Linked DNA regions of Homo sapiens: regions 1 and 2 are each linked to region 3. The links come from fine-mapping of genetic effects on gene expression. A gene starts in region 3. Each other region holds a variant in brackets. All regions are shown on one strand. Distances are between the middles of the regions. Region 1 overlaps CNMD (chondromodulin). Region 2 overlaps LINC00345 (long intergenic non-protein coding RNA 345). Region 3 holds the start of CKAP2-DT (CKAP2 divergent transcript).

Region 1 (6,599 bases), 280 kb before region 3:
GGAGCTGTGCTGCTGCTCTTTGGGGCCATCGGGGCCTTCTACTTCTGGAAGGGGAGCGACAGTCACGTAAGTCCAGAGGGCGGCGCGCGGGGACCCCCGTGTCGCCCATGGTGCCCCTAGGGGGAGCCCGAGCGCGGGCCGGCGAGGGGCGCGCGGCTGCCGGCGGGCCCCTCGGGCCCAGCGTGAGCTCCCCTCTCCCATCCCACTCTGGCACGCGGCTTTCCGCCTTAGGTCAACGTTGTAGAAAAGCAAGTGAAGGTTTCACGGGAGAAGATTGAAGCGTAGAGTAGGGGAGAATGTAGTGGACGGTCCGAGAAAGGCCGTTCTCGGCTCATCTCCCACTAAGCAGTGGCGCGACCGTGGGGAAGGCACGTCACCTTTTGGCCTCAGTGTACTCGTCCTGAAGGGAAAAAATGGAACTGGACGATCTCTAAGGCCTGTCCCTGCTAAGAAAGGCTGTGGGTTTAAAATCCAGGACAAAGATAGTGGAGGAATATTCAGACCCATATTCAGACCCATTGGGAAGGAATTTTTGCCTTTCAGAAGGTTTTTTTGTGACCTAGCCATGAACATTCCCTTCTCTCTCTGGAAAACAAAAACAAAAAACAAACAAACAAACAAAACGTCTAACTTCCTTAAAGGTGGAAAATCTCTTTAACAATTAATTCTGGCCTAGTCATCACATGTGGTTTAATAGTAGGTGTTTTACTAACTGCTGTCCTACTTTCTTTGTATGCAACTATTTATTTTAAAGCTCCACGGCTCTCGAGGAGTATAAAGACTGTTTCTAAGTTGACTGGGCAGAGCTCCAGTGTGTTCTCTAAATACTCTGAAAGTGTTCACCTATGTAAAAGGGGGCATTTTATCTTGATGACCACTGCCAGGTCTGGTATAAGCTTATTTCAACTAATGGAAAAGAATTCCATCTCCAGGGCACACACAAAGGGCTCTTTCATAATCACTATCCTCAGAGGATTGGTGATTGCTGTTTTTTCCTCTCTCCTACCATGAAATGCAAAGCATGAACGAATTCCAGTACTTACAGAAAATGGTGCTGAAAGCAATTCAACCATTTTACACATCACGTCTTCTGCAGTCACTGCATAATTTGTATTTTTAACTCAAATGTCTAATGTAGATAAGCATGCCATTTAGCACCGAGTCTGTTTTAGAGACTATATCAAATTTACAAGCATCGATTTGTAAGATCAGAATTGCACTGTATTTTGTGGGTATTTGAAAAGTGCCTTAATGTATTTGTATTTTAAATATAGAAGCTGGGCCAGATGCTCATGTTTGAAACAGCAAATGTGAATAAGAGAATGATTTCAATATCTACATCTCCATTAATAGCAGGGTTTAGATTGTCATCTCTTTGGGAAATTCTGTGGTTTTAGAATGTAAATGCTATCTTTTAAATAACAAAGCCTCAATGGTATAGGTCAATGGGGGATAACAATAGCTATGCTTTTTTTTGGTAAAGATTCTGGACATGATATATTTTAAAATGAATACCATTTGTCATTTAATTATTCAAGGTAAACATCACTAACTGACAGGCTTCTAAAAAGAGAGATTAAACAATCATACTGAATAAGCACAGCTCCCTTTTTTCATATATTTTACTTTACTGCAAGATGGTTGGTTGTCTGGTTCAGGAGAGCAGTATTAAATGCTAAGAATTCAGAGGAATAGTGAATCACATTTTATTGTCAACAATCAAAATTATTGCTATATCCTATACAGACAGGAGAATGAAGAAAATCATGATAGTTTTTTTCTCCCTGATCCATATGACTTAAGTATGAAAAACAAATCACAAAATACTAAATAGAGTAATTTTTGCACCACCTAGGCATAGCACATGCACAGGTCTGCTTTGCCTGAATACAAATCTAAATAGCTCAGACAAAACGTAATCAAAAAAGGTAAGTCTTTGTCAAACAGAAAGACTTGTCAAACCAAATGGATTATCCACTCTTTGGGGATTATCTGTGCCTCGGCTCCTCTATATTGGTTTATAGAGGAGAACCAGCTGTAATTCACCTCCTATCCTTTTCATGTGGGTAAATCCCCTTAGGACAGGTTTACTGAAATTTAGCTGGAGGACTATGAAGCACTGGAGTAATAATAATCAGGGGACAACTGAACTGGGCTCCAATATTGAGGCCATTTTTCATCCACATTATTGTAAATGGAACAAGGCATTGAAATATGGGAAATTTCCACCAATATGAGATAACTGACAACCCCACCCTGTGAGATGAGGGAAGGAGATCATTGCTTGGGGCCTTTCCTCTCAGACTAATTTTTCTAGACATTTTCCCAAACATTATGTAATTAATCTTATAGAACATAGGCCTTATTAAAAACTCATTAGCAAATATCCTTGGCTGTAAAAGGCACCATATTGAGCAGAATTTTGGCAAATAATAAATTTCATCTTGTTTGGATAAAAATAGCCTTGGGTGTCCACAGCTCCACGGACTTAGAGCAGATAAGGTAATTGCTGCTCCAACAGCCCAGCCTCGTCCCCAGCTCAGAGTCTAGTATGTTAGAAACTGGACTGCCTCCTCCCCCCACATCCTCCCCTAGTAGCTTCAGGAGGGGGACAGCTTCACTGCTGTCCCCATGCAGATGGTGCAGTGCACATAAAAGGTGGGCTGCAGGCCAGGCGTGGTGGCTCACGTCTGTAATCCCAGCACTTTGGGAGGCCAAGGCAGGAGGATCACTTGAGGTCAGGAGTTCAAGACCAGCCTGGCCAGCATGGTGAAATCCCATCTCTACTAAAAATGCAAATAAAGGCCGGGCGCGGTGGCTCACGCCTGTAATCCCAGCACTTCGGGAGGCCGAGGCGGGCGGCTCACGAGGTCAGGAGATGGAGACCATCCTGGCTAACACAGTGAAACCCTGTCTCTACTAAAAATACAAAAAAATTAGCTGGGCCTGGTGGCGGGCACCTGCAGTCCCAGCTACCTGGGAGGCTGAGGCAGGAGAATGGTGTGAACCCAGGAGGCGGAGCTTGCAGTGAGTGGAGATTGTGCCACTGCACTCCAGCCTGGGCGACAGAGCAAGACTCCGTCTCAAAAAAAAAAAAAAATTAGCTGGGCGTGGTGGCGCATGCCTGTAGTCCCAGCTCCCTGGGAGGCTGAGGCAGGAGAATGGCTTGAACCTGGGAGGCGGAGGTTGCAGTGAGTCGAGATTGTGCCACTGCACCCCAGCTTGGGTGACAGAGCAAGACTCCATCTCAAAAAAAAAAAAAAAAAAAAGGTGGGCCGCAGCTGCACAACCAAGATGCCCTACGTCAAGCTTGTCCAATCTGTGGTCCTGCATGCGGCCCAGGGCGGTTTTGAATACAACCCAACACAAATTCGTAAACTTTCTTAAAACATTATGAGATTTTTTTTTTTTTTTAGATTTTTTTTAAAAATTCATCAGCTATCGTTAGTGTTAGTGTATTTTATGTGTGGTCCAAGACAATTCTTCTTCCATTGTGGCCCAGGGAAGCCAAAAGATTGGCTATCCCTGCACCTAGTTAGGGAGGCTTTCTGGGGAGAAGACAGCCAGGGGTAGTGGTGGAGGAATGTGAAATTCAAACCACAGGCCACTCTTCTAGTGTGACAACCTTATCTCCTTAAGAACTGCTAAGAATTTAGAAATGGTTATGTTCTTAAATGTTGCATTGCTTTACTAGTAAAAGCTTATGTGCAATGTTCTTAAAAAAAA[AC/C]ACAGAACCTCTTGTCATATGAGTGGAAGACACTCACATGGGTGTTTCCTGCCAGGCTCCTTCTGACAGTCATCACTGACCCATATGAACACTGGCTGCTCAGAGAGCACCGGACAGAACAGAGCCTTCTTTCCAAACTTCACCTGCAGGAGTCCCGTCTCAGCCAAAGAAAACAGGTTTCCCAAACCTGGCTGATCATAAGGGCCACCTGAGGGGAAAGGGGAAAAGAGACTGGTGGGCTGTGCTCTAGCTCCACTAAATCAGAACCCCCAGGAGTGGTTCTTGTGATCAGGGAAGCCTAGGAGACAGTAAATTGCAGACATCTAAGTTCTTCAGAAAGAGACAGGGAAGGAGGGGCAATGAGGGATGGTTGAGCTGAAAAAGGACACTGGTATTTTCTGTCCTGCTGAATGAATGCTGTTCCTAAAAGGGTGCTGGATAGCAAAGCCATTTCTGTATCTCTGCTGATAATAAAATAGTGCACTGTGGGTCTTGTAATAATGAGTTTTCTTCAAGAAATGGATCCAACAATAACAGATCCTTTTTCCAGTGTTTGTGCATGTAGCAGTCACTCTTCATAATGAGGAAGAAAAATCAGACTTGAATTGGATCTGAGCTATTTGCAGTTTTGACTGGCTGACCTGATATTAAGTAGCAACAGTTTTTCATCAGTTCTCATTCCTCCACTTTAAAGATTTATATATATGTGTATATATAATCTATAATTTATACATGATATGTAATATATCATATGTAAGATATATAGATATACCTATGCATCTAAATCCAAAAAAAAAAGAAACCCACCTCCTAGCTCTGCCACACAGAAAGGTCTACCAGGACAGCAGCACACTGAGCAGGAGCAGCGTCTGAGTTATTTTGAAACCAGTGCAGTAATCAGGTGTCTGAGCCCTTTAGGTCAGCTAATTAGTGGCAAACTTTAAAAAAGAAATGTTTTAAGTATTGAAATTTGTCTTTCTAACAAAATGTTACTCAGAAATGCAACACATAAGACAGAAAAAGCAGAGCCACTCTGGTTAGACTATGGATGGACAGGAGAGAACAGAGTGCCACAGTGCCATCCTCACCTCTAGGCCATGCCCGGGAGATCCCAACAGTTCTAAGGACATAGATGAAAGCCACCTATGAGGTCCAACTTCATTATACACTCGTGGCAACTCACAAGATCCAGAGATGAGTGGTGTGGCCACCTGTTTTCCTGATTACTGGACCGATGCTCTTCTGCAGTGCCAGGTCCCTTCCCCTCTTCCACACTCCCCACACATCTCATAACAAAATGCCCTACAGCACCATGGGCCTGCCCCATAGAATCGTTCAGGGAGTACTACCATTTTGAGCTGAAACAAACATGCACATTGGCCTTCCTCTCCACACATGCTGCTCTATATCAAGCATACCCTGGTCCTGTCTGCAGTCCTTTCCATATACCTAATACCATATACCATATACCTGAGACACTGCATGCCTAATCTTGACCAAAGGATGAAAACAACTTGTGAAACTGAGGTGCCACTGCAGACGTGTTCAGCTGGGAGCCCAATTAACCTTCTGCCTCCTCAATTTCCATTTATCCATCAATAGTGCTCAACCCAGATGCATAATAGAATTGAGCTTTAGAAAAAGAAAGACCTATGCCCAAGCGCCCTTCCCACAGCTTCTGATTTGATTTGTCCAGGGTGAAACCCAGGCATGGTACCCAGAGAGTCTACCCAGATGCTTCTAAAGTACAGCCAGCATTGCAAATTATGGAGCTATTGGAATAGGTGTCAGAGGCAACCAAAGTCTTTACTCTTAAGGTATTTTTAAGGAAATCATTGCATTAACTGATTGTTGTATGAATGAAGTCATCATATATAAATGTATTATTATTAAGGACTATCTCATGTATCTCTGAAACATATGGACACTACCTCATACACTGCCCTTCTAAAGATAAGCCCTGAATTGCTCAAAAAAGAAAGCATCACTAACTCTTATGCTCACTTTCAGATTTACAATGTCCATTACACCATGAGTATCAATGGGAAATTACAAGATGGGTCAATGGAAATAGACGCTGGGAACAACTTGGAGACCTTTAAAATGGGAAGTGGAGCTGAAGAAGCAATTGCAGTTAATGATTTCCAGAATGTAAGTATATTTCATGCATTTAGAGAATTTAACCAGGCAAGCCTGCGGGACTTTTCTAATTCAAGGAGGAGCAGCGTTTCTCACACACATCCAAATGGTAACTGTTCTTTATAGCAGTTGTAGTGCCACTAATCCACTACATGTAGCATATTCTCTCTGAGAAAGGACCAGACTTTGTCCTTCATATTTGCAAAAGAAAAAAACAACACTTCAGTTGTAAAATACCAAAAACAAAAAGAACCACCTTTACTGAATTCATGTACATAAGGATTTAGCTGTTTTGAAAAACATTTTTTACTTCTAGGAAATTAAAGGTATGTCCCTAGAAATCAAAATAAAACTTGATTTTTAAAACTGGAAGAAAAAAACCACAATACCATAGCATTGAAAAGAGCAGGTTCTTCTTGGAATTATATAAAAGTCTTGGCAGAAAGACTTGAAGGAGCTATTTCTTTTCAAGCGGATTTCTGTAACGTGATGAATAAAATGCTCAAAACAATCCAAGAATGTTGCAAGATTTGAAATTTAAATTTCTGAAGAAGAGGGAAATTTTAATGACCTAATAATCTCATCAACAACAGGTGGGATCTATTTGCATACTTTTCTCAATTCCAATTTCCTATTTAATCCAGAAAATGACCATGAGCAAATTCTCCTATTATAGCATATGTTTTCTGACCATAGCATGTTACCATAGCATATTAGAGATAAAACATTCACA
Region 2 (6,599 bases), 120 kb before region 3:
ATTATGTTACTAGATATTTTGAGGGATGCTGCCTCACAACTATCTACCTTGGGGAAAAAATACTGAATTAAGTGCTATGGGGAAGTGACAAGGATGGAGCCAGGTCTTGTTGACAGGCTGCTTATGGTTGAGAGGGCAACTAATCAGAACCAACAACAAAACAGTTACAGCATTAGCAGTGTGCAGATAGAAGCTTAGTTGTGACTGAGTTAGAGGAAGGTGTGTGGTTTAGTGAAGAGCAGGTTCCTGGGCATGAGAGAATGCCATATGTGAAAACTCAAGAGGAATACCTCCATATCTCAGTAGCAGGTTTCCTGTCATTCTTCTCTTGTTCCTGACAGCTAGGATTTCTTCACTTTCCATTTCCCCAATTCTGTTTTCACAAGGAAGCCCCGGAATTCCCTTAGCCTTGTCCTTTTCCTAGGGCAAGCTGTTCACAGTGGCTCTCCTTGAATCTATCTTCAAGGAGTTGAAGAGCTCTGGTACTGAATCAACTGGTTCAGAACTCAAAAGTTGGCTGCGCTGGTGGCTCACACCTGTAATCTCAGCACTTTGGGAGGCCGAGGTGGGCAGATCACTTGAGGTCAGGGGTTCGAGACCAGCCTGGCCAACAGGGTGAAACCCCGTCTCTACTAAAGCTACAAAAATTAGCCATGCGTGGTGGTGGGCACCTGTAATCCCAGCTACTTGGGAGTCTGAGGCAGGAGAATTGCTTGAACCCAGGAGGTCGAGGTTGCAGTGAGCTGAGACTGCACCACTGCACTCCAGTCTGGGTGACAGACAGATTCTGTCTCCAAAAAAAAAAAAAAGAAGAAGTACTCATAAGTTCATGGACTCTATCTTACCCATTGAGAAATGTTCATAGAAGTAACAAACTGCCATACTTTCCTTTAGAAAGGGCCAGTCATGAGGAAGGCTCATGAAAGTTCTTAACTTAGGAGTAGATGTAGTCAGTAGAATGGCCCACAATGCAGGATCAGAATGTGATGGTATCCGAGAATCACCACCAGACACAGAGGGCACTCTGTCCTGAGGTCTTGCCAACACATCTCTCAAATGTGCAGCTGAGACCCTGTGTTGCCTTCTCAGTCAATCAGAAGAGATTCAGTTGCAGCCTTTGGTGTGCTAGTTCTGGACTAAAGTTCGGGAAACTATGCATGACTACAGAAGAGATGGGGATGGGGAGACGTGTGGGGTGAGTTGCTGAAGGAGCTCTATCTAACATCTCCTTGGCTCCTGCCACCAGATTCTCCACCTTCCCCTAAAGGCTGTAACCTGCCAGGGCCCTCAAGCTGCTTTTGCTCCCATGCTTCTTTCTACTACAACTTAAAACAACATGGACTGGTAGTAGAAATTCATACAACCAACCCATAGGAGGTACTCACTACAAACAAAGAAGATATTATGAGGAAAGGGTGGAAAGATGGGTAAGCCATGGGCCTTGCCTTTAAAGGGGAAACAGAAGTCACCACTTCAAATAGCTAGAGAACAATGCAAAGTGATATCATCCCTAAGAGAAACACAAAGGGCTTTAGGAACTGAAAAAGCAAGAGACTACTTCAGGCTGGGAAGGGAAAGGGACTCTAGGAAAAGGGGCATGAGAAATGGCACGAGGGAATCAAGTGTCCATGGGCTGGGAAACAGCACACAGTCTAAATGTGTTAGAGTGTGGGATGTGTGCATGCACATAGTGGAAGAAAAGGTTGGAAAAGTCAAACTGTGGATCTTGAGTGCCAGGTTGAAACATTTAGTTTATTGCTACTGGCAGTGGGGACATACTCTGGATTTTGAGCATGGAAATGGCATGAGTAGGGCTGCACTTCAGTAAATCCACACATTCCTTTTCGCTTAGGGTCTATGACTGTTCTTTGTCTGGTTTTGTTTTTGGCTTGGGTGTGGGAGAAAAGTATCAGTGGATAAGGCTGAGTTCTTTTGCCCAAACTAAACGGGGACAGTAGTTAGTGTTCTTATAACAGGGCCAAGAGTACTTATTCAGTTCCCACCACCTAAAGAAAAACTCATTTACAGCCACATCCAAATCTATTTGAGAATTCCCAACCCACTCTCACTTCGGTTTGAGGGGCAATATAGAAAAGGCAATATAAATGAGAAGCTGTGCACAGCATGGGCTTCAGAGTCTGACATCTAGATTTCAGTCCTTGGTTCAAAAGTTAATTTCTCTGAACCTCAATTTTCTAATTTATAAGATGAGAATCATAGTAGTGCCTACTCATAGAGTTACTGAGAATATTAAATGAGATAGTGAATGTAAAACTCTTAGAATGGTTCAGCAAAGTCTAGAATGTTGTAAATGCTATACGATAAACATTCTGGTTTCTGCAGTAAACAAATTACAAGCAATAAAAAATGGCAAGAAATCTATGAACTAAAAGAGACTTAGGAGACATAGCGACCAAATGAAATGTGTGGATGTTGTTTGAATTCTGACTGAAACAAACTAAATTTTCAAAGATTTTAAGACAATTTTGGAAACAAACATGGACTAGAAATTTGATATTAAGGATTTTTAAGGTGTAATATTTCAGATATGATAAAAGTTATTAAGGGTTTTTTGTTGTTGTTTTAAGAGTACTTAGATGTCATACTAAAATACTTGTGGGATAAAATGATCTGATGACTGAAATTTCCTTCCAAATAATCCAGGTTTGGGGAAAGCAAGAGTGGAGAGTGGGGTTGGGGGTGTGAGTGGAGTGGGAAAAGTATGGATGAAACGTGGCCAGTTGCAGGCTGAAATGATTGTTGCAGCGAAGTGATGACTACATGGAGATATATTGTATGATTCTCTGGACTTTTGTATATGATTAAAGTTTTCCATAACGAAATTATTTTTAAAAGAAAAAACAGAGTAACAGCATATGTTTCATATAGGTGTTATGGGTTTTCAATGAGATATGTAAAAGTGCAGTACTGTCTGGTATATAAAAGGGTTTTTGAAAAGTTTATTTCCCCTTTTCTTTCTCTTTTAAAATACACCTCCCCCACCACACACACACACACACACACACACACACACACACACACACACACGGGAGTCACCCAAAAACAGTCTTTGTGATGTTCTGCAAGGGTTGAATTGCCCTAATAAGGATCTGTGAAAGACTTAGATCTTTTTTACATTGAAATCAAAGGCTGGTGATTTTAGATAAACTTCAGGGTCCTGGAGCCTTAGGTATTGGACTTTCCTGCTTTGGGAAAATAATCAACTCCTGAGCTCCGTAAACAATAACCAGTATAGAATAGAAAGCAGGATGCTCTGAGGAGAAGCCAGACCCCCCAACGTGTGGGTGGCACCTGAAGCATGACCCTTAGCATCAGGGAGGGACCAAGGCCTGTCGCAGGGTGCCCTAATGCTGCTGACTGATCACCAAAGGAGAAGAGTCTAAAATGAAACCAAATAACAGATGGCAATCTTAACCCACTCCCCTACAAAAGCTCCCTTTCTTAAAACGAAAACTTACCTGAGAAGGAGTTTCTACTCCCTGATATTTAGTGCCATTGGTTTTATCTGTTCGCCGTTCTCCAAAATAGTACAATCTTTCCTACAAAAAAGGAACCATGGTTCATCTGCACTCTTTCCTTTTCTATATTAGGTACCTTAGTCTTTCTAAAACCACCTTCTTTCCTAAAGTCAGTGATTTTTTTTTTTTTTATGGAGTCTCGCTCTGTCACGCACACTGGAGTGCAGTGGCAGAATCTCACCTCACTGCAACCTCTGCCTCGCGAGTTCAAGCGATTATCTTGCCTCAGCATCCTGAGTAGCTGAGACTACAGGCGTGTACCACCACACCTGGCTAATTTTTTGTATTTTTAGTAGAGATGGGGGCTTTGCCATGTTGGCCAGGCTGGTCTCGAACTCCTGACTCAAGAGATCCGCCTGCCTTAGCCTCCCAAAGTGCTGAGATTACAAGCATGAGCCACCGCGCCTAGC[C/T]GCAGTGGTCTTTTGGCAAAGGCTACCCAAATTACCAAAATTAACAAAGTCACATCAAAGACTTCTCTCATTCAAGGTTTCGTAAAGACATAAAAGTTTAGAGCTGGAAAGACCTTAGAAATCATCTGGTCCAACCCTTCTTTCCATCTTACAAATGAGAAGACTGAGACCAAAAGAAAACTACACAATCTGCCATGGAGATGCTGCAGCCAGTTAGAAGCAGCACAGGCCTGAAATACAAGTCTCTGGTTTTCAGTCTAGGGCTCTGTATCAGTGGCTTTCAAACTTTTCATTTTTTAAGTTGCAATCCACATTAATAAACCTCGGAGAAGTACACACACACACACACCAATACTTAAACCTTTTCAGATTTTCTATTCTGCTCTATTCCATTTTATTTAGTTTTAGCTTTAGTTTTTTTTTGTTTTTTTTTTTTGAGACGGAGTTTCACTCTTACTGCCCAGGCTGGAGTGCTATGGCCCGGTCTCAGCTCACCACAACCTCCACCTCCTGGGTTCAAGCGATTCTTCTGCCTCAGCCTCTCAAGTAGCTGGGATTACAGGCATGCACCACAATGCCCAGCTAATTTTGTATTTTTAGTAGAGACAGGGTTTCTCCATGTTGGTCAGGCTGGTCTCAAACTCCTGACCTCAGGTGATCCATCCGCCTCAGCCTCCTGAAGTGCTGGGATTACAGGCATCAGCCACCGCACCTGGCCGATTCCATTTTATTTTTAAGAGATGTTAGTCACAACCCAGTAACTTTATTTTACAACTCACTGATACATCATGATCCATAGCTTGAAAAACACCATCCTAGAACATCCATTTTCAAAATCTGTGTGTCTCAAATTAGAAAAACCAAAGGTGGTGGAATTAGAGTGCTGGGCATTGTGCAGAACCACCACTTCTTCCCTAGACTGTAGGCCAAACAACTCAAGCGGAGCTGCTGGAAATGGTAGCATCTCAGCAAGAAAATGGCAAAGAAAAATGACTGAGAACACTGCTGTAGGTGGAAACATCCCACCTTGTCTTATCAGAAATTTCTAGAGGCCACAGACTCCACATGTGTTGACTAAGCAGAGGTATTTACATGCAGGAGAGGCTTTGAGTTGTGAAATGTTGCCTTTTATCTACCTAAGAGGTGTGAGGATGGCCAAGGCCCTTTGGAGAATTTATCTAATTAAGCTTGATACTATTCTCATGAGGAAGGAAGAACAGCAGGGCCAGGTGAGGTGAGGGAACCATTGCGATTACTGAATGTTTTTTGTATCTGTGTAACATGGCTTTACTCCCCTCACCTTAATCCTGCCCCATCAGGTCTTGTCATTATTTAAAATGTTAATATTGTATACCTCATGGTTTTTTTGCATTAATTTTTATTTTTTAAATATTGCATGAAAAATCATTTATTTTAATTATTGCAATTTTTAGCATTCTCTTAAATTCTGCGCCTCATTGACCTCACTCTAGTCCTGGCCCAAAGAGATTCTTAAGCCAGCTACTAACCAGTGCATGTTAAACAAGGAAGTATCAAAAACAGACTTTTTAACAACCGCTTCTCCAATTACAATTTCACTAAGCACCATGACTAAAATAATCATCTTAACATCCTACCAGTGATGTTTCAGAACTAGCAAACTCAGTCATCCTAAGACAAAGTTTGTAGTAACATCTTTCATACCTCTGCAGTTAAAAATATTTCACTGGCAATCAGGCAGGCACAAACCATAGTTCCGGTTCTTCCTAGAAAAGAAAAGAAAAATTAGTTCAAGGAACATGCTTGGTATAAAAATACACTCAGAAATATTCCAGGAGTTCATTTTAAGTTGATTTTCTTTCTTTTTTTTTGGGACAGTCTCGCTGTGTCACCCAGGCTGCAGTGCACTGGCACGATCTCAGCTCACTGCAACCTCTGCCCCACAGGTGGAAAATAAATTACATTTACGGTAAAAATATTTCTCAACTACCTCTCCACGAAAGAACAAGATGAGGTTTTTACTAAATCTATTCGAAAGCAATAATTCATGTCTTATATAAATTCCTTTGGGTAACAGTAAGAAAGAAAAATTCCCAACTCATTTAGTAACACTAAAATAGCTGGTTCCAAAACTGCATAAATACAGTAGACGATTACTTTATACCAGTCTGACATATAAATGTAGATATAAAAATATATATATTTTTTCAAAGTGAATTCAGCAGTGTAGAAATACCACGTATCAATACCAAGTGCCATTTCTCTTAAGAATGCAAGGATTTTTTTCCAAGACGGCAGATTACAGGCTTTTAGCATGCCTCAGCCATTTGGAAATAGCAAGATAGTACATAAAGATCAACTCTGTGAACTTTAATTCAAGAAAGAAAACGACAACTCCCTGGAATTATGAAGGACACCCCAGATCCTTGGGAGGACAACGCAGGCAAACAGCTCTTGTGACAACATTCGACTGATAAAAGCGAGTGAAGCCTCAGTATGTGAGAGAGGCAGACAGCATCCCTCTGTCTTACCTTTCCACTGGGGATCCAAGCAACCCGGACCGAGGAGGGGCACTGTTTCTCCCAAGTCCTGGAGCTAATTTAACGAGAGACTTGGAGACTTTGTGAGGAAAGGACACAAGGAAAAGCTGCAGGCATTTTCCCAAACCTGG
Region 3 (6,599 bases):
TTAAGTAAATATCATCTGTATACTAATCAATTCCTGAGTTTATGCTTCCAGCCCCAACCCCTCCCCTGAACTTCAGACACACAATTATTTGGCATATCTGCTTGGATGTCTGGTTGGTACCTCAAACATAGTCAAAACAGAACTCCTAATTCCCCAGCTCCTCCTTCAGGCTTCCTATTTCAGTATACGGTTATCACCATTCATTTACTTATTCAAATAAAAAACCTAGGATCACCTTTTTGTCTTAAACAAAGAAATAAAAGATTTATTTGTGAAGGATAAACTGTTTATTCCAAACTAAAGCAACTTATTAATATAAAGTTAGAAATTATTTTTAAAATTTTAGAATGCCAAACTTACACAAAGTTGCAAAAATATAAACAGGTCAAAGAATATCTGTACACTCTTTACCCAGGATCCACCTATTGTTAAAATTTTTATCCCATTTGCGTTATCATTTCCACTCTCTGAATATGTGTGTGGGTGGTATATACAATTTTGTTTACCTGAGACAATTTTTTTTTTTTTTGAGACGGAGTCTCGCTCTGTCACCCAGGCTGGAGTGCAATGGCACGATCTCGGCTCACTGCAACCTCCATCTCCCAGGTTCAAGCGATTCTCCTGCCTCAGCCTCCCCAGTAGCTGGGATTACAAGCACCCACCACCATGCCTGGCTAATTTTTTGTATTTTTAGTAGAGACGGGGTTTCACTGTGTTAGCCAGGCTGGTCTTGATCTCCTGACCTCGTGATCTGCCCACCTCAGCCTCCTAAAGTGCTGGGATTACAGGTGTAAGCCACAGCACCCAGCCTAAGCCTGTAAGGATGTTATTACTGGTTATCCCTAGAGAGTGAGGGGACCTTTTGCCTTTCTGCTTCATCTACTTTCATGGGTTTTTGTTTTTGCTACAGCTATGTACTATCTAAGATATTTTAACAAAATAATAAAGATATTTCTGTGGAGGGTTGAGACTACAACTAGTAATCTCTAAGCATTTGGGAGGGCCACCCAACCCTTCCCTGATGAACTCCCCCATACACTGAGTAAAAAGCTTTGCTAAATAATAGAAAGACTGACCTTTGTGTGGTGTAAACAGTAAGTTGATAATCTAGTCTATGCACATACTTTGCTTTATAATTGTTTTTTTCTCTTAGACTGTGAATTAATTTACGTAGAAAACGATAATCTAGGCCGGGCGCGGTGGCTCATCCTTGTAATCACAGCACTTTCAGAGGCTGAGGTGGGCGGATCTCAAGGTCAGGAGTCCAAGACCAGCCCGGCCAACATAGTGAAACCCGGTCTCTGTTTAAAATACAAAAATTAGCAGGGAATGGTGGCACTTGCCTGTAGTCAGTCCCAGGTATTTGGGAAGCTGAGGCAGGAGATTCACTTGAACCCAGAAGGTGGAGGCTGCAGTGAGCCAAGATCACGCTACTGCACTCCAACCTGGCAACAGAGTGAGACTCTGTCTCAAAAAAAAAAAAATTAATAAAACGATGATCTAATGCTGCACCATCCAATAAAGTAGCCACTAGCCAATGTGGCTACTGAGTGCTTGAAATGTGGATAGACCAAATGGAAATGTCCTGTAACTGTAAAATAGACACCAGATTTTAAAGACGTTGTACCACAAAAAGACGTAAAATAATATGTAAGCAGTTTTTCTAAATGTGGCTACTAGAAAATTTAAAATTACAGATATGGCTTACTTTACATTTTCATTGGACAGATCTGATACAATTTTACAGAAGTGAAAAGAAATAAACTTGACCTTACCTGGATAACATCTCATTTTCCTGCTTGTATGCAAAAAGCGTTTTTCTTCTCAACAGATGTTCCTTGAGTTTTTGTCTTCTTTGCTCTAGATAACAAAGGTAAGAGCTACAAGTCAATATTAGTTAAAACATCGATAACGGCAAATAAATCTTGTTGACTAAATGAAGAGTTTACTTCCAAAGCTGGTTCCACCTGAGGTCACATCTATATAACAGAAAATTCTCCAATTCAATATTGCCTTTGAGAAATCACCTTAGAAGAGACTGTTACCACAACAGGTCCCCAAAACCCCTCTGCATAAGAATCACATTCTCTACTCCCTGTGAAAAATCTGGAGAACATCATTTTCTACATACAGCTCCTGCTAGCCAAGCTTTAAGAAACTAAATGGTAGAAGTGAGGCACTAGACTCGAAAGTTCTAATTTACCAGAACTGGGTTAGATGAGAATTACTTTCTTCTGCTTTCCCGTGTGTAGAATAAGGGAATAACAATATTAGTTTTGAAGACCCAACCAACCCTCGGTTTCCATAAAGTCGAAGGAGAAGCTGTGAAATTGGAAATAACACATGATGCGACCCCAGCCCTGCAGAAATTCGCTAGGGACCTAAGAGGCGGAGGACCCAGCGCAGGCGCAGTCGGTCCCTGAACCTGTGCAGCCCCGCCCCCAAGCGGACCCAGGGTCTCCGACACCGACCCCGGCCTGAGGCCCGCGCGTTTCCCCTCGCCTAACGGATTCCTTCTTAGGAGGGCCCATCCCAGCCAGCAGCGACCGCACAGTAACACCACGCAGCGGTTCCTGTTTTTATGATCCGTTCCACAAGGCCAAGAATGAGGCAGGGCGAGGCCGACGCCGCGTTCAGGGATCTCACAGAGCGGGGGAGAGGTGAAGCGCGCCAGCGCGGCCCCGAGCCCCGACCGCCGGGCCCGCGCCCGCCACCGCCACCGCCACCGCCACCGCCACCGCCACCGCGGCCTTCACCTTTGAATGCGGACTGCGCCCTCTGACTCGGGGGCAGCTGCAGGTCCTGGGGCACGGCCGGTGTGCTCATCGTAGCCTCGGGTCGGGGGATGCGTCTCCGCTTTAGCGCCAAGATAGAACTTCCTCAGACCACCGCCGCCGCAGTCTGCACCGCGGCTAAGCCGTCAGACGGCGCGGCTGCCGTCTCCGCCCATTGGTTCCTGCGTGAATTGAATAAGCCAATGGGCGTAGGGAGGCGGAGCCTGGACTGCAGTTGCCGGGGCCGGTCTGGTGTCTGCCCAGTTCGGTTGGGACTGAGTCTGCAGGTTTCAAACCTAAACAGCGCTCTTCATCCTGGACGTGCGATGGGGGAGGAGTCGGCCTGCTCAGTCCCCACGACATAGCAGGACTAGGTTGACAAACAACCGAGATGGGACACATCTTGAGACCCTCACAGTCCTTGGAGGAAGGCAGACGAGAAAAAGACAAGAAAAGTGTTGATTGGCTGCCCTTCTTATTAAACATCGACGCGTTCACTGACGAGGACGTAAACACCGATCTGGCGTACCACGAGCGTGTGTATTTTCGTTTCACAAATACTGCTTCATTTTGAGCATCAATTCTGAGGTGGGACGTTATCACCACTTTTTCCACTGAGAGGTGACAGGTTCAGAGGTTGTTTGTCCACGTTTGCACAGCGTGTGAAGGGGAACTGAAATTGGGATCTACTTTCCATACCTTTATTCTAAGCAATTATCAAATGCAAAAAAGGGAGGAGAGGAGGAGAAACAGAAAAAAATGAAGATAAACCTCATCCCCTCCTCAAGGTTATATATAATTCTCCTTTGAAGATAAAATAGCATTTGTTACAGACGTTTTGTGTTTGTGTGGTTAAGTGTGCCGCCATAATCTTCGTTTTTCTCATCTAAAAATACCACCTTCATAAAACCCACACAAACACTCAATCCACATGACAGAACGAAACAAGTCAGGGCTAGAAGGTTTTAAGAGTGGCAGTGGGGAAGTGAGGGCGAGTCTGGACTGCACCTGCCTGGTTTCAAGCACTGGGTTTACATTTCTTGCCTGATCACTGCAGTAAGGCTGGACTGGACTCTTTCAGCCAGGTTTTAGGTGCTCCGGGCACACAGACGGGAGGATGTGATTTCCCCGTTTACCCTTCCCAGGTCTGAGGGCCTCCACAGCTGGCCCTCGGCTGTGGTCAGTTTTTCCCACTTCTGCCTGCTTTTTTCTTCAGACATCTTATGGTAGCGTCTTGCTAATGAGGAATTTGGTTTGAGATTTTGTGTAGTTTTTTACTTGATGAAATGTCCCAGTTTTAGTTTAACATTGTCCATCACCATCCTTAAGATATAACTTGCTGTTTAAATACGTCTGTCATTATTGTTGATTATTTACTAAAGTTTCATCAGACAGGTGGGGCAACCAGGGATTTCTATTAAGTGAGAACAAAATACAGCGTTAATAAGTGACTCAAAAACCTCCAAAACATTATGCTAAGTAAAAGAAGTAATATATGAAAAGTTACATATGGTATGATTCCATTTATATGAAAGATCTAAAATAGATACATCCATAGTGAAATAACTCAGAATAGTAGTTGCCAGAGGCTGAGGGTAGGGGGAGAATTGGGAGACAGTTTAATGGACAAGGGTTTCATTACCTTGAAGTAAGTGAAATGTTTTGGAATTAGAGGTAGTGGTTGGGTGACATTGTAAATGTATTAATGCCATTGAGTTGTTCACTTTAAAATGATTAATTTTATGTTATGTGAACCTCAATAATTTTTTATAAGTGGGCATGGTAAAAAAAGAAATTGACTCAAAGGATACCATGGAGATCTCAGTAGGCTGAGATGAATAGGAAAACCTGCCAAACTGCTAGGTTTTTCAAAATGGCAATTCTCCTCTAATCTCCAGACTCACCCACTCCAATGATATGTCTATTTTTGAGACACTTTTTAATATTACTGCTACACAATTATTGCAGAGAAAGCAGACCTTTTTCTAAAAGATCCAAAAAACAAACAAAAAAAACAAAACAAAAAAGATTTCCTTTCAGAACAGTTCTTTGCCAACACAGCTGACCATGAAACTGCAGGCACCTGGAGTACTGATGATTAATTAGTGTTAGTCGTTCCTCCTGTGGTCATGTGAAGAAGGTAAAGTGCCTGTGAGAGAACAGGGAAGGACAATCTGAAAGTTAGGAGGACAATGGGGACACAATGGGGTCACAAAGTCTGGGGAAGAGAGAAGCTGAAGAAAGAGGTAATGGACCACAGTGTTGGGCACTACAGAGGTCCAGTAGGATTGGGACTGAAAGGAACCATCTGATTCAGAAGGTGGGAGGTCCTGGCAAAAACATCCTGGGGATGGCTGGGCGTGGTGGCTCATGCCCGTAATCCCAGCACTTTGGGAGGCCAAGGCGGGTGGATCACCTGAGGTCAGGAGTTCAAGACCAGCTTTGCCAACATGGTGAAACCCTGTCTCTACAAAATATACAAAAGTTAGCCAGGCGTGGTGGCAGGCACCTGTAATCCCAGCTACTCGGGAGGCTGAGGCAGGAGAATCGCTTGAACCCAGGAGTCAGTGGTTGCAGTGAGCCGAGATTGTGCCATTGCACTCCAGCCTGGGCGGCAGAGTGAGACTCTGTCTCAAAAAAAAAAAGCATAGACCTAAATGTAAGAACCAAAACTATGAAGCTTCTAGAAGAAATTATAGGAGAAAATCTTAGTGACTTTGTGTTAGGCAAAGATTTCATAATCAGTATCAATATCTGGTTTGTGGAAAAAAGATTTCTTAAATAGGCAAATTCCATGAACTATGAAAGAAAAAAATACACTGAACTTCATAAAAATTAAAACCTTTTGTCTATTCATTTATTGCCATATATAAGCCACATGACGTTTCTCCTTGCTCCAGCCTGGATACAGGAAACCCTTATACGGTTGTCTATCCCAGCAGCTATCATATGCCAGGCTTCTATTTGTGTCCTACAGACTGTACATCCCTCAAGGGCAGAAAACATACCTTGCAAATGTCCTCACTGCCTAACATGTTGATAATTGCAAAGCCCAGGCATAACTGCACAGTTCCACATCTGATTAGGATGCTTAGGTCACATTACTTTCAATTAAAAAAGACTAAAAAGTTGGTAAACAATCAAATGCTCAAAAATCAGGCAATGATGGTAAATTGTGATATATATTGATAGCATATTACAGCAAATCAAATGTTTTCAAAGAACTTTTGGTTATTGGGTATATGGTCATGATGGAAATTGAAAGATATGAAATACAGAAGACACTGTTTAGAAATAGACCAAAATACACACAGGATTTTGGAACACGGTAAAAGTAGCAATTCATTTCGGGGGAGAGATGGCTTATACTCATTGGAAAGAGCCTTTCCTTTCTTTTAATGCCTAGCCACAGACCACTGACTCCACGACTGGGGGAAATGTGGAGCCCTGGGGGCAGAGAGCAAGCCTGCCCTCTGTCCCTCTGCCCCTGTGCCCCTCTGCCCACGTGGGCACGCAGCCTTAGTTAAGACCCCAATAAGTGGTAGGCTCTCTAAAATGTGTTCACAACCTTTAAAGCAGTCATTCTATTTTAGGAAGACACTGTAAGAAAATAATCCTAAAGAGAAAAATATGTATCAATTGTAGAAGGACATCTATAAGCTGCTCCATTTATTTATTTATTTATTATTTATTATTATTATTTTTGAAGCAGAGTCTCGTTCTGTCGCTCAGACTGGAGTGCAATGGTGCGATCTCGGCTCACTGCAACCTCTACCTCCAGGGTTCAAGCGATTCTCTTGCCTCAGCTTCCCGAGTAGCTGGGAT

Evidence for each region.
Region 1: its variant is fine-mapped to the expression of CKAP2-DT in skeletal muscle (FUSION, PIP 0.95).
Region 2: its variant is fine-mapped to the expression of CKAP2-DT in thyroid (GTEx, PIP 0.92).

What each region holds. Positions count from the first base shown.
Region 1 is chr13:52,732,498-52,739,096 of GRCh38, reverse strand. CNMD (chondromodulin) reads left to right here. Exons shown (of 7, transcript NM_007015.3): 2 at 1-66; 3 at 5,738-5,878. Among named protein-coding and RNA genes, the nearest start is that of CNMD, 4.0 kb to the left of the region's middle. RefSeq lists an enhancer at 1,206-1,707. The variant AC/C (reference allele first, on the strand shown) is at 3,727.
Region 2 is chr13:52,570,327-52,576,925 of GRCh38, reverse strand. The region is part of intron 2 of LINC00345 (long intergenic non-protein coding RNA 345); the gene reads left to right. It also overlaps the pseudogene TPTE2P3. Among named protein-coding and RNA genes, the nearest start is that of LINC00345, 27 kb to the left of the region's middle. The variant C/T (reference allele first, on the strand shown) is at 3,950.
Region 3 is chr13:52,451,784-52,458,382 of GRCh38, reverse strand. It overlaps CKAP2-DT (CKAP2 divergent transcript), which reads left to right and starts at 3,037. Exons shown (of 1, transcript NR_185890.1): 1 at 3,037-3,608. It overlaps CKAP2 (cytoskeleton associated protein 2), which reads right to left and starts at 2,905. Exons shown (of 9, transcript NM_018204.5): 1 at 2,757-2,905; 2 at 1,776-1,860. The coding sequence starts at 2,826. RefSeq lists enhancers at 3,205-3,284, 3,575-3,754.